2 linked regions of the Homo sapiens genome follow. The protein of the gene in region 2 interacts with the protein of the main gene of each other region in a pairwise test. Each region holds a gene or a part of one and is shown on either strand. Other genes may lie near its edges. The genes, in order: TMEM132D and PCCA.

Region 1 (3,811 bases), on a different chromosome or scaffold from region 2:
AGGCAACTTGTGAAAATAACATTTTGGATTTTTCTCCCCCTGAGGGAGAGATACGTTCAGTGCGGAAAAATGAACAATGGATTTTGTTCGTTGGTGACGGCGTAGTGTCCACAGGATGTGGCTGGCATGGAAGCGAGGTGCTGCCCTTCCCGTGCTTCTTAGGTTCAGGGTCCAGTGTTTCATAGATGACTTGGAGCATTGCTTTGTACGCCCGGCCCTGACACATTGGTGTCGTGGTCACCTCATCTCATCTATTTCTAGAGGGCCCCTCCCAATATATCCTTCCAAGGTATTTTCTCTGCATCTCTCCCCTTAACTCCAACTGGGGGCGGGTGTCCACTGTCCATGTGATTTATGATTGTGCATCTGCGTCTATTTTTGCCCCAAGTCTGTTAGCATTTCCCATTGGACATGTGCGTATATGCAGAACGTGCATATGAGTGGAACACAAAGGAATATGTATCAGGTGGAATGTGGACGTGGCATCAATCCATGTGTTGAGGAAGTCATTCCTGTTTCCAATCTCAGTCTGTGTTGAGTCAATGGGACGGTGCCTCTCTGTCGATGGTAGCTTGTCTGTGACAGCTTTCTAACACTTGCTAATCTCTCCTTTGATCAAAAAAAGAGCAAGTCTTTACCATAACCCCATAAAAACACCATTATCACGAGTGGAAATTTTAAAACTGTATTTGAATTGTATTTATTTGCATGCTCAACTTTTTTATAGGTTAAATGATACTGGTTTTCTACTTAGGTTGGTGGCATTTATTTCTTCTGAAACAAATAATATGAAGCGAGTAGATTGGATTAAGAGGTTTGGATAAGGAATTGCATAATTGGCGCGAAGACAGGGTCCTCTGTTATGAAGGGGGCACGCAGATGTCTGAAATGCTGGTAACAGGACCTTAGCATTACTAACGCCTGCACTGCGATTCCCTCCCCACAGTGACGGAAGGTCGAGGGATCCTTGAGAGCATCCAGAGGTTTTCCTTGCTGCCCACCTACCTCCCCGTGACCTACCACATCAACAACGCGGACGTCTCCTTCTTCCTGAAGGAGGCCAACCAGGATATCATGAGGAACTCCAGCCTGCAGTCCCGGGTGGAGTCATTTCTGATTTACAAATCCAGGAGGCTGCCTGTCCTCAATGCCAGCTACGGGCCTTTCTCCATCGAGCAAGTGGTGCCCCAGGATTTAATGCTACCTTCCAACCCATTTGGATTCACCAACAAATTTTCTCTTAACTGGAAACTAAAAGCCCACATCCTGCGGGACAAAGTCTACCTGAGCCGGCCCAAAGTGCAGGTTCTGTTCCACATCATGGGCAGAGACTGGGACGACCGCAGCGCCGGGGAGAAGCTGCCGTGCCTGAGGGTCTTTGCTTTCCGAGAGACCCGAGAGGTGCGGGGCAGCTGCCGGCTGCAGGGGGACCTGGGGCTGTGCGTGGCCGAGCTGGAGCTCCTGTCCAGCTGGTTCAGCCCCCCCACGGTGGTTGCCGGGAGGAGGAAGTCCGTGGACCAGCCGGAGGGGACCCCCGTGGAGCTCTACTACACCGTGCACCCAGGGGGTGAGAGAGGGGACTGCGTCAGGGAAGACGCGAGGAGAAGCAATGGGATCCGGACAGGCCACAGTGACATCGATGAGTCCGGGCCCCCCTTGCAGAGGATCGGGAGCATCTTCCTTTATCAGACACACAGGAAACCCTCCCTGAGAGAACTGCGTCTGGACAACAGCGTGGCCATCCACTATATACCAAAGACCGTGAGGAAAGGAGACGTGCTGACTTTTCCTGTTTCCATCTCCAGAAATTCCACTGAAGATCGCTTCACGTTGAGGTAAGTCGTTTCCCAATGTCTGTCTGTACCCGCCCGTCGATCAGGTGGTGTTTTCCAGAAGCTGTTTGACCAGAAAAGCTGTGTTATCGCTCACCGAAGTAGAGCCGGCCTTCCCGTTCTTACAAACTCCATCTGCACCGTGGAATACAGAGACCAGTCTGATCGTTCCGGGTTGGCAATTGGGTTGTGAGAATATTCGTCTTAATAGATTTTCCAAGCCATTGATAGGGCAGCCGGGGGGCTGCTGATGGTACGCCTTTTCCCTTAGCTTAGGGTATTATCAGCAAGTTTTGGGAATGCTAAAATTATCCAAGAAGGCTTTTCAAAATTGGGAGAGTTAAATGCCTCACAGCTGAAATGAGACTGCAAATGAAATGGCAACAGTTGTCAGAAAGGACAGGGAACACGGTTTTGCCAACTCAAAATCTATTCCAGATATGTAAGTTCTAAGTATAATATGGTACCAACCTCAAAGTTACCATTTTGTTTCTCCCTGGAAATAGAACTTAGTGTTCAAAAAAATAAATGAGCATAACGTGTGAAGAATATACAGTAGAATTTGTTGAGTTTCTTATATAAGAATATACCAAAGAGAAGACATTGAAAATAAGCTCTGTGTACTTTAGAATAAATATAGGCTGGTTTTCACTGTGGAATATAACGTATGAGAGAAGCTACTTGCCTAGGCTTGTTTGTATTTTCATTATATAGTTTTAGTTTTATTTTCAACACAGGCAAGTTTGATTACAACAGCTGTTTAGTAGAAGTGTTTTTGGGTTATTAAAAATGTCCTAGCACTGCTACATAACTCAACAATTTGACCTGATGTGCAATGTAATAAAATGTGTGTTATGACTCCTGAAATGAGGAGTGTAACTGTATGTAAGACATGTTTCATATGTGGGCTTATAAACTTCATCCAATGATGACCAGCTCTCTATCCCCCTTCATATGGGATTTATGGCTGCTTTTTCTAGCTTTTCTTTTCTTCTTTTCTTTTTTCTATTCTTTTCTTTCTCCCTCTCTTTCTCCCTCTCTCTTTCTCCCTCCCCTCTCCTCTTCCCCCTCCCCTCCCTTCTCCCCTCTCCCCTCCCCTTTCCTCCCCTTTCTCCTCCCCCTCCCCTCCCCATCTCCTCCCCCTCCCCTCCCCTCCCCCTCCCCCTCCCCTCCCCTCTCCCCTCCCCTCCATGCCGTCTCCCCTCCCCTCCCTCCCCTCCCCCCTCCCCTCTCCCCTCCCTTCTCCCCTCCCTTCTCCCCTCCCCTCCCCTCCCTTCCCCTCTCCCCTCCCCTTTTTTCCTTTATGTTTAAAGGGTGGATGAGTTTAAGAAAATAAATCACCGTTTTGATTCTACCTTGCACATTTAAGTTTATTTGATTGTGACCTAGTATTAGAAATGCCTATTTTAACTAAAGAAACAGAACCTAATGGACATGCATCTAATGACTGAACTTGGCTAAGTCCTGGAAGGTAAAAACCTTTGGCCTGGCTGGACGTGCCATTCGCGGAATAGCCGCAGGGATTTAGGGTACAGGAACACATCTGCGCTGGCCAAGCCTTCATTAGCGTTCCCTTCCGTCCTTCTGGAAATCGGATCTAGATCCAGCTGGCCACAGGTCCTCAATGAGGTCTGCTAGCTTTGTGTTTTACTTTTCTGGGTTCAACAGTCTTACATAGTATTCTTTGTGAGGATGGCTGCTTACGTAGAGAAATATTTTGGTGGTGGAAACAAAAAGTTTGAATAGGGGAGCTTTGATCTTACACCGTTTCATACCGTCTGCCATTTTTTAGGTCCGCCAACGACTGACTTGATTTTCTGAACGCAGGATTAAACACTGCAATCCCCTGAAGCTTTGACTCTCAGGAGATGAGAGCCACATGCAGCTTGTGTGTGTGTGTGTGTGTGTGTAAGCAGTGATGTGTGTAGCACTGAATTTCACAAAAAGCTTTGTGTCTCATGACTTTATGACACACTAAA
Region 2 (4,485 bases):
GAGGTGGAGGTTACAGTGAGCTGAGATCGCGCCACTGCACTCCAGCCTGGCAACAGAGCGAGACCCCATCTCAAAAAAAAAGAAAAGCAAAGAAAAATCATGCAAGGCATATAAGAGTTCAATAATAACTATAGCAATTACCATAAAACCAACATCCTAGAGCCACTGAAAACATTTACGCAGAAGAAAAAACTAGGCATTAAAACAGAATGTGCTTAAAAAGCTGATACACAAAACAAATAAGACTAAAAGGTGAACTCTACATATACCCTAAAAATAAATAAACTCTGTTGACTGGCTAAAAGAATGGTCAGAATTCTCTAGACTAGACCCTAGAGTTAGCTGGCTGCTTTTCAACCAACCAAAAGGTTTGCAGAGGTGGAGGGAGGGATGGGAGGGGTTAAAATCTTCAAAAGATTCAGCTTCAAACAGACTCAGTAGAGCATATTTCAAGTTCATAGAAGAGAAGCGCAGAGAGAAGCTAAGCAGCAGCTCAAGTTCCCCTAGAGTGATAGTGAACTTCAGAGATGCTTCCCACCCCAAGGAGGAATTCTTTACCGGCACAAACATAATGCTACTCTATTGTTACACATTCAGCACCTATTGTGTCAAACATTGTACTAAGAACACAGAAATAGACAAGATGCAGTCTCTGCCAACACATTAAAAGGAAAAAACCAGGTAAGAATCATCAAAGCGTATGTATTACACAGTAAGTGTATAACAAGTGTACAACAGTAAGTACAGTAACAGCCTTCCTCTCAGCCTCTCCAATCTAAAATGTCAGTGTCATCCCTCCCACCTCCAACATCAATGTCTTCCCACTGCTCTAAGACAAACACCAAACCTCATAATGTGATCTATAAGAGCCAGATGGTCTGACTCCTGCCAGCTTCCCCAACACCATCTACTCTCTGCATCAGAGCCTCTGTAGGCTTTTTTCAGTTCTTCTAACCTGTCATTCCCTCTGGCCACAGGACCTTTGCATACACTGCTCTCTCACCTATAACATTCATCTCTGTTTGTTAGAAAAGGTCACTTCATCCTTCAAAACTTGTCTCAATTTTCAGTTCCAAAGGAAAACACTCCCTTACCGTAGATAGCATAGTATGATTAAGAGCACAGGTTCTGGAGTTCTAAATCCTGTTTGCCACTTATTGGCACTATAGCTTCGAGCAAGTCACATTAACACTCAGTGCCTCACTTTCATCTTCTGTAAATGGGGGACATACGACTGTTGTGAGATTGAATAAATTAGTTCAAGCAAAGCAACAGAACAGTATCTAGAACACAGAATTCAAAATCTTGGCTTGGTCAAATCCCTCTATTTTATTTTCTTATAGCACCCGGGCATCTCCCCTAATACCATTTTACACTTGTTACAGTCTCCCTACTAGAGTAAAATTTCTAAGAAAGCAGAAACCATATTCATTCCCCAGAAGTGGAAGACAGGAGATATTCAGTAAATATTTGTTGAAAAAAATAGCTACAAGGACGAAGCTGACGCCCAAGGAAGAGACCTGTCCAATATACAAAGCCTCATGCGCCTGACCCCAAAGCCCACACTTTACACCATACTAACTTGCCTCCTATGTAAATGCATAAGTCTTACAGCTGCAATTGAAGTGGCCAACACAGATGAACAGAATGATAAAGATTAAAGAACACTAAACTGTATGGGAACACAGAAAACAGTGAAAGTCCGCACGCTGAATTGGACACAAAACAAACATAGGTGCCACTCACTTCCATGTCGATAAGCTCCAGCTCTCATACTGCCCACCTGGGGCTCGGTTCCCTCCTCTTTAAAGAGTAGGATGGGGCAGGTCGTCTCTAAAGTGTCTTCAACGTCTAAAATTAAATGACTATAAATCAAGTTATGTGGCAATGTTTTAATAATTATTTTTTAAAAGGAAGTTTAACAAGCACACTGAACCAGCTGACAGATGGTTTTCAGGGGACCTTCATTTTAAAGAATGTGTTCAAGTGCCTCAACAAACCTTATAAAGTAGGTTAGGTGGTCTGTGCCCCAGAATTAACGACAGACTCGACATTGACTGGAGACAGAGCTCAGAAGCACACACAAGCACTCCAACCTGTTTGTCAATCTGCCATCATGACAGCCTAGGTATACAGAACAGTCATGAAATGTGTTTAGAACAGTGCCAAAATCAGGCTCACCACTATACCGAAAAGGAAAGTAAGTTCACGGGATGCATTTGGTACACAGTAGACTGGGGTGTCATACAATTAAAACAGGCTTTCAAATGAAACGTAAAATCTATTGGCAGTCCTGACATGGTATAATACTTTAAAAGATAAGACAAACTCACAACCCTAACACTACTTAAGCAACAGTTCACAGTGTCCCTTCAAAAATGCTGGAAAGAGGCAACAGAACACGGAAACTATAAGGACACCTAAAAAGACACCCTGGAAAGCTTAAGACAAAGCCAATGCCGCGGGGCCCTGGAAGCAGACCTCGAGCAATATGCCTGCCCAAAGCCATCAGCCGCCTCGGAGGGCGTGCGGGCACCCAACTGCCTCTGCCCTAGGCCTCTCTGCTCCGCAGGATCCCCGCGAGGAACAGCTGCAACGAGGGATGCCTCCTGAGCCCGCTGCCACGCGAACTCCGGGAGGGAGGAAAGCAAGCGGTGTAGCTGATGCGGAACCGGGGCGCGGGGGCAGCCGGACCCAGCCAGCGCTCTCCCGGCGCCAGCCGCCCAGAGGCGGCACGGCTAGAAGCCCAGTGAAGCCCGGACCCGCGAGGCCCCGTTGCTCCTCACCTTCAGGGTCCGCAGCGCCGCGCTCAGCATCAGCTGCTGCGGCGGCCACCGCCCACGCCGTCCGGCAGCGACCAGCGGTGCTGTCCCGACCCAGAACCCCGCCATTGTTGTCCCCGCAGACCGCCCCTCTGCTGACCTCTCACACAGCCGGAGGGGGTGGAGAAGGGGAGCGCAGGAGCTCCGGCAAATCACGAGCCAGAAACCCGATGCCCCGCCCCCTAACTTGCGGAAAGGGGAGGGTGAGTGGTCGGCCAGATCCGCCGGATCCGGGATCCGGGAGTCGCGCTAGGACCTGGAGGGCTAGTCGGCGGGCTGCGCGTCCGGCCGCTAGCTGAGCTGGAGGCCACCGGCCAGAGCCGACCCCAGGAGTGAGAGAGACAGGGGCGTGCGTGAGTTCCGGCGGCCTGCACCGGGCAAACCCCGTACCTTCCCAGCATCGGCTCAGCAACCCACGTGCATCCAGGCCGGTCAATGTCATTGAGTCACCTCCGCGCCTTGGCCACCCTGGAGTCCCGAGAATCCGAAGTTCCAGACAAATGCCCAAACTACATTCCTGCATGTTCGAAAGCGTAAATTGCAAAGCACAAATCCAGGTAAGGTTTTTAACGACTGTAATAACACATAAAAAGTTCTAGGTCTGGAAATCAGAGATCCGAGCTCAAGTCCTACCTCTGGCACTTAATATGTGTGTGTGAAAGAAATTAGCCACAACTAGAGTCAGTCTTTGTTGCTCGCAAGCAGAAACCCTTGTTAGTACAACTACTGGCCAGGCGCAGTGGCTCACGCCTGTAATCCCAGCACTCTGGGAGGCCGAGGCGGGAGGATAACCTGAGGTCAGGAGTTGGAGACCAGCCTGGACAACATGCCGAAACCCCGTCTCTACTAAAAAATACAAAAATTAGCTGGGCGTGGTGGCGCACTCCTGTAATCCCAGTTACTCGGGAGGAGGCTGAGGCAGGAGAATTGCTTGAACCCTGGAGGTGGAGGTTGCAGTGAGCCGGATCATGCCACTACACTCCAGCCTGGGTGACAGAGCAAACTCCGTTTCGAAAAATAAAATAAAAATTAGTACAACTATTAAGGGCCGGGCCGTGTGCTAGAGCCTCAGATTCCCTCTTACTTGAGAGTTTACAAGAACCTTAATGGAGTATATATTATTTCCATTTGGAGAAACTGAAGCTGTAGCAGGGTAAAGTCACTCAGCGAGTAAAAGGTCAAACTAGGGTTTGAACCCAAATCTGGCTGCCTTGAGGGACTGGGCTCATGTTTTGCTATATTATGGAAATTTTAAAATATATACAAAAGAGATAAAATTGTACTATGATCACCCAGATACCCATTACACCGCGTCAATGAATCAACATTTTGTCAATCTTGTTTCATCTATTCCCCTTTTTATTTTGTGCAGGAATATTTTAAAGCAAATCTAAGACATCAGACCACCTCACCTATAAACACATCAGTATTGGGGGTTCTCCTCTTAACTACTTTGCATCTCCTGCAGAGTCACCTTGAGAGAGTTACAAAGCTAGGAATGGCCTAGAGTACACTACAGCATGGTAAATGCCCAAAGAGAGAGAAATAAAATGGGGATATCAGAAAGGTGACATTTAATGGAATTTTAGAATGTAAGTAGGGACTTTTGTGACAAAATGAAAAGGATTATCAATTTTACAGGACTTCTCACTTATGTACCTCA

Evidence for each region.
Region 1: the proteins of PCCA (region 2) and TMEM132D interact in a two-hybrid assay, tested with the Homo sapiens proteins (one large-scale study listed by BioGRID).

Annotation. Positions count from the first base shown.
Region 1 is NC_000012.12:129,697,834-129,701,644, reverse strand, and holds part of TMEM132D (transmembrane protein 132D precursor), read left to right. Parts: intron 1-946; coding exon 947-1,835; intron 1,836-3,811. UniProt on the Homo sapiens protein: Regulate neuronals morphology via inhibition of the WAVE regulatory complex (WCR), a complex that controls F-actin cytoskeletal dynamics.
Region 2 is NC_000013.11:100,087,527-100,092,011, reverse strand, and holds the start of PCCA (propionyl-CoA carboxylase alpha chain, mitochondrial isoform a precursor), read right to left. Parts: upstream 2,920-4,485; 5' UTR 2,892-2,919; coding exon 2,787-2,891; exon of another isoform or gene 1,753-2,786; coding exon of another isoform or gene 1,747-1,752; intron 1-1,746. UniProt on the Homo sapiens protein: This is one of the 2 subunits of the biotin-dependent propionyl-CoA carboxylase (PCC), a mitochondrial enzyme involved in the catabolism of odd chain fatty acids, branched-chain amino acids isoleucine, threonine, methionine, and valine and other metabolites.